Regions from separate parts of the Homo sapiens genome. Here region 1 is linked to region 2. Evidence: fine-mapped expression QTL. A gene starts in region 2. The other region holds a variant in brackets. All regions are shown on one strand. Distances are between the middles of the regions. Region 1 overlaps DEUP1 (deuterosome assembly protein 1). Region 2 holds the start of DEUP1 (deuterosome assembly protein 1).

Evidence for each region. PIP is the estimated chance that this variant, and not a neighbour inherited with it, causes the effect.
Region 1: its variant is fine-mapped to the expression of DEUP1 in nasal epithelium (TOPMed, PIP 0.98).

Annotation. Positions count from the first base shown.
Region 1 is chr11:93,395,946-93,398,865 of GRCh38, reverse strand. DEUP1 (deuterosome assembly protein 1) reads right to left here. Exons shown (of 14, transcript NM_181645.4): 11 at 2,541-2,627. Among named protein-coding and RNA genes, the nearest start is that of DEUP1, 67 kb to the right of the region's middle. RefSeq lists an enhancer at 1-199. The variant C/A (reference allele first, on the strand shown) is at 1,621.
Region 2 is chr11:93,329,161-93,332,037 of GRCh38, reverse strand. It overlaps DEUP1 (deuterosome assembly protein 1), which reads right to left and starts at 1,296. Exons shown (of 14, transcript NM_181645.4): 1 at 1,266-1,296. RefSeq lists an enhancer at 1,156-1,657.

The DNA.
Region 1 (2,920 bases), 67 kb before region 2:
GCCTGTAATCCCAGCTGCTTGGGAGGCTGAGGCAGGAGAATTGCTTGAACCCGGGAGGTGGAGGCTGCAGTGAGCCAAGATCATGCCGCTGCACTCCAGCCTGGGTGACAGAGTGAGACTCCATCTCAAAAAAAAAAAAAAAAATTTGACATGAAAAAGACAAATAAGCCAAAAGAAAAATGGGCAAAGGATATATCTAATTGATATTGGTACACATTGTCAATGAATATACAAAAATATGTTCACCTGGTACTCAGGGAAATGCAAATTAAAGAGCTATTGAGAAATTACTTTATAACCATCAGAATGACAAAAATTAAAAAGACCTATAACACCTATGCCTACAAGAATGAAATTTTAAAAGGTACTCATACAAAGATGGTAGACATATGATTTAACAATAGCTATTAAAATTAAAACACACATATCCTTTGAATTAGCAATTTTACTCCTAGGAAGCTATTCCAAGGTGTAAGTATAAGGATTTTTCTTACAGTACTGTTCATTCGGGCAAAACTCTGGAAACAGAGTGGAATAAATTATCCTTGAAATAAGTATAAAAATAGTTTAATAAATTTTGATACACACCATGGAATATTATCAAGCTATTATAAAAATAAAATAGGCTTAAATTAGTTACCTTGGAAAGATTCCAAGGGATACTGTTGAGTGAACAAAAACAGGACACAGAGAAGTACGTGTTATGATTCAACTTTAAAAAGATGATAAAATCCCCAAATAGGTACTATATGACTATATGTATATATATCTGAAAAAGTTTAAAATAATACATACCAAGTAGTTAACATGTATCATCTAGAGGAGGGGGTATAATGCGGGTAGATGAGTGGAGGAAAGAGGGAGGAGTAAAGCAAGCAGCAACAACAAAGTGACTGCACTAAAATTGCCCTTATGTAAGTTATGATTAAATTTATAAAAAATTATGTATATCTTATATGCTCATATATTTTTTCTAAGAAATTAGGAAAAATAAAGGGATGTTCATCTACTGATTTGTAGAGGTGTTCATGGACTGTCAAAAGGCAGTTTTGGAATAATGTATATATTATACATTTATTTCTGTAAAAGAACATTCAACCCATCTCCTCCTTATGTGTGCATATGCAAGCAAAAAGTTACAGAATGCTACAACAAACACTAATTCGTTAGCACTGGATAGCTTTGGATTGGGATAGGGTTGTGGATCATTAGCTTCTTTATACATCTCTGTGTCTGCTATTTCTTAAAAACACAAAAAGGTGAACAAAGTCAAACACCTAAAGGAGCCAGAATTAGGCAGGCTCAGTGGGGGCTGTGACGACCCAGAATATACACTTAAAAACATTCAAATTGAAATGTAAAAAAAATACAAATACCATTTTGTGAGTGAAAAAAGCACTCACGGAGGCAGGATCTGATTTAACTTTTTGTGTGTTCAGCATTTAGAAATAAAAATGTCATAGATGACACACAGTTTTTTTAATGTAACAAATAGGAAAATCACTTATGCCTTACTTTTTATCCATCTGTACTCCAATCACAGGATCCATTAACCATGCCCAAAGAAGAAGACAGAATGCTTCCAGAATGTTTGCACTCTTTTGATGCTAGAATATGGAC[C/A]ATTATGAGAACAAGTATATAATATCACAGAAATATAGTATCATAGCTTAAGGAGGGCCAATGGAGAATGTCTAATTCAACTCCCTCATTTTATAGCTAAGGAAACTGAGGCCTAATTAAGTAATTAACATATTCATCTCTTATCATTTCCATTCCTCATATGGTAGAAAATTATTTTAGAATTTTCTCAGAGCAAATAAATGATAAACAAGTTAACAATGATATTTCATTCATTCAATAAATAAAAATTCTCATATAAAATCAATTTTCTATTGTTACATTAAACAATTGAAAGGGGATGCACAGAGCCTGTTTAAGTTCCTTTGTGTAAACCTATAGAGCCATTGGTTAAAACCAGTAGTCCTTATCCTGAATAATTCATTTATTTCTCCCTCTTTTAAATCAACCAACACTCATTGAACACTTACTTTATGCCTGAGATGTGAGGTACTGGTGAAACAAACACCAATAAGACATGGTTCTCTGCTTGCCATCCACTGGGAAAGTGACAAGCAACAAAACAAGTCAGAACAAAATACGAACTAAATGTGGCATTCATTCTGACTGGGGTTTCAGGGGTGGCTTCGTTGAGGGGAAGATTGGCACTTGAATCAGGCCACATAGGATGTAGGATTTCAAAGGCAACAGCAAGAAGAAAAGCAAGGAAATAGCATGCTTGGCATATTTGAGGGAAATGATCAGAATTGAGCCCAATCCAACCAAAGAACAAGGGAGAAAACCAGACATTCCAATGTTCTAGCCTGAGGATAAAAGTAACCTCAACTGAAGCACAAGATAATTTACCACCCAACTCCTTCATGTCTAACACACAGCAAGTGCTCAATAAATGATGTCTAGGTTAATCGTGACCAATTCAGTAATCTCTTTGTTCAATTTATTGAATGATGTCAGCATATTACCATGTATTCTCCGGGGTCTAAATCTCCCATCATTCCTTTTAGATGTGTGTTTTCAGTTCTGACAGCTTTATATTTCATATCTGAGACCTGAAATTAGCAGATAAAAGGCAAATGTAAAATTCATAATAAAAACTCATAATTCTATTAAAATTTTGTCTTGTGAATACAAATATTTTCTAAGTGTAATGAAGGGAAACACTTCTTCGGTACGACCAATAACATTCAGGTATTCTTATTTAGTTCTCCTGTCTTTGGCAGGCACCACTTTACGTCTTTTTCTGATCAATGCTAAACTACAAGCATATACTTTCAATAATGATTCATTTAGTTTTGTCCTACAATCCCAAAATTCCATTTCTGGTTTCTATTTTCTATTGTAT
Region 2 (2,877 bases):
ACGGAGTCTAGCTCTGTGGCCCAGGCTGGAGTGCAGAGGCACGATCTCAGCTCACTGCAACCTCTGCCTCCCAGGTTCTAGCGATTCTCCCACCTCAGCCTCCTGAGTAGCTGGGACAGGCAATCGCCACCATGCCCGGCTAATTTTTGTATTTTTAGTAGGGACGGGGTTTCGCATGTTGATCAGGCTGGTCTCGAACTCCTGACCTCGTGATCCACCCACCTCGGCCTCCCAAACTTGAGTTTTTTGTTTAGCGACCCCTATGCATTTACGATATTGACTTAGTGATTTATTGAAATATGTGGTACGGACTAAAATGAGCATCCATTTACTACTTATTGAATAATAGCTTGTACTACGTTGTTCGCAAACGGCTCAGTACATGAGAATGAGTAAAACAGAATTCCCATTAAAAGAGAAATTCTAGCCAGATGTTCTCAAACTTTCTATTCTTGTGGTTCCCCTAAAGGTGTGCCTTTATTTGAGTACATTCTTTCTTTGGCCCTATCTGGGTTTTGTTAGGATGACTATAACTATGAGATTTAGGACAAAAAGGCTAAGAATGCCTTTAAAAAGAAATCTTGAAATTCTTCAATGGCTCTATGGGCACTGGCTCACCTCTTGACAAAATAGGGATGTTAGCATTTGCCTAAAGTAAAAAAAAAAAAAAAGTTTTTCTCAGTAACACAATTTTAGTTAAAAAATAATCTATGACGATAACTGGAGAAAGTATTGAAAAGGACTTCAACTCCTCCGAATCACTGAATAAAAGTCAATTAAAGAACATTCAAGGAGGTAGAAAGAGGAGGAAGATTCGAGCTCACATCACTTCCAAATCGAAGAGTTTTAAGAGAGACCCTGGAATTAAGAGAGACAGAGCGGAGAGGAGCAGGGATGGTGAAGGAAAACTTGACCAGAAGGAGCAGACCAATAAATGGTTTTGTAGATTCTCAAATATCTCACTTAAACGTCAGGGAAACTGAGGCACAGACAAGTTAAGTGGCTTGCCCAAGGCCACACAACTGAAGCCCAGTCCTTCTAACTTAGGGCGCAGCTCTGCTCTGGATTTGCAAGCGCGGGCCTCCCCTCCCAGCCTCTGTCCCCGCGCCACGCGCCCCTCCAGGACCCGCGCTCGGTTCAAGCCCAGCCTCCCGCAGAGCGGCCGCCCTTTTGGGGTTCCCCTGTCCCGCTCGAGGACCCGCGCAGCCTGGCCTTTGGGTGAGGGTCAGGGGCGAGGCGGGGCCGGGAAGGCCAGGAGCCATTACCTGCGCTGCGCCGCGCTCGCCCGAGAGGTCTGAGGCGAGGGCGCAGGACCGCGTATGTCACCTCCCGCCCCGCCAGGCCCGCCCCAAGGGGCCCCGCCACCCGCCGCCGCGCTCCCGCCGCCTGGGCCCTCCCGCCGCGCGACCAACGAGGCAGTTGGGCCTCTCCCTCCCCGCGCGCGGCGCCGCCGCGTGTTGCCATGGGGACGTCGCGGCCCGAACTCGTGGCCGTCGGAGTGGGGGATGGGCGCGGCGGCGGCGGCAGGCGCTGCCCTGTGCGGCTCCTCGGCTGCCTCCAACCTCACCCCGCGCGAGCGCGACCTCGCTGTCCCGCAGTTATACGTCCAGTGCCCCCTCTATTCTGGGTCCTTTCCTCTTTGTAGTCCCACTGCCTACCCCAAGGCTGGGCACCCAAGCTGCAGCCCGGAAATACTTGTTGAATGAATGAACCAAATAGATCACGAAGGAACTGTAAACCGCTGGGGAGTTCATCATCCAGGTTCCTTAAATCCCCTTGGCCCTCTTTCCTCTTACCCAAATTTGAAGTGGCATGAAAAAGAAATAAACTTCGGGTAAAGAGAACTGCTTTTATCTCCGTTCACCCTAGCGTCTTCCAGCTGGGAGGAGCTGGATTTCACCGCTCAGCCCCTGGTTCCTGTGGTGATAACAGCATCAGCTTGTACCTGACTTTCCCGTCAAGCGCGATGGGTCCTTAAAACACTGCCAGTCAGGCGAACGGACAGTGTTGCCTCCCTTCAGGGAGAAGAGAATAGCTTCTAAGAGGAGAAGCTGGAACGAAACTCAACGGGACTGATTCCAGATTCTTTCCTTTTTCCACCAAATTCCAAGAGTCATTGATGACAGATTTTCTGTCTCCATTTCATAGAGGAAATAATAGGAAAGAATATATGTTTTCCAACTGACATCTTGAGTGATTTGTTTTAAGCACTTGAATTTTGTATTTGATTTATTTTAACCAAATAATTCCTTCCTAACACATGGAGTCGACTACTTAATTCTTAAAGTCTTTTATTTGCACTTTACTTTCATCACTTTAACGCTAATTTGCTACTTTAATATTCTATGAATTTAATGCGCACCCACATCCCTCCGTCCAGGTCCCATCTGAATTTTATAAAACCATTATGCTGTTTCTTGACAAATTGAGCTTCATAGATGAATTGTATACGGTCACCTGGGATATCAGTTCTAACAGGTGTTTCATAGCTCTCATGTTTGCATGAAGAGAGTGACTGTGTTATCTTAACTTGAAACTTTTCATTATTCTGAAAACGCGTATATTCTTTATTCTTATCTGAATTGAATGGGTCAATGTATTTTTTCTAACCCAAGGAAGGGAAAATGGAACTAGGAACGAAATTTAATGAAATCTCAGGATGCCCAAGATCACTAAGGCTATGTAACATTGCTAAGTGCTTCCATGTTCATTATTTCTTTAGAGGCTCAGAAATACACTCAGCAAGTGTATCAGGTGTTATTAATAGCTTCTTTCAGAAGATTAGGAAACCCAGGCTTAGAGAGAATGAAGGATATGTCCATGGATTTGTCCATGGATTTGCACTTGAAATGGATGATACATCAAGATGTAAACCTA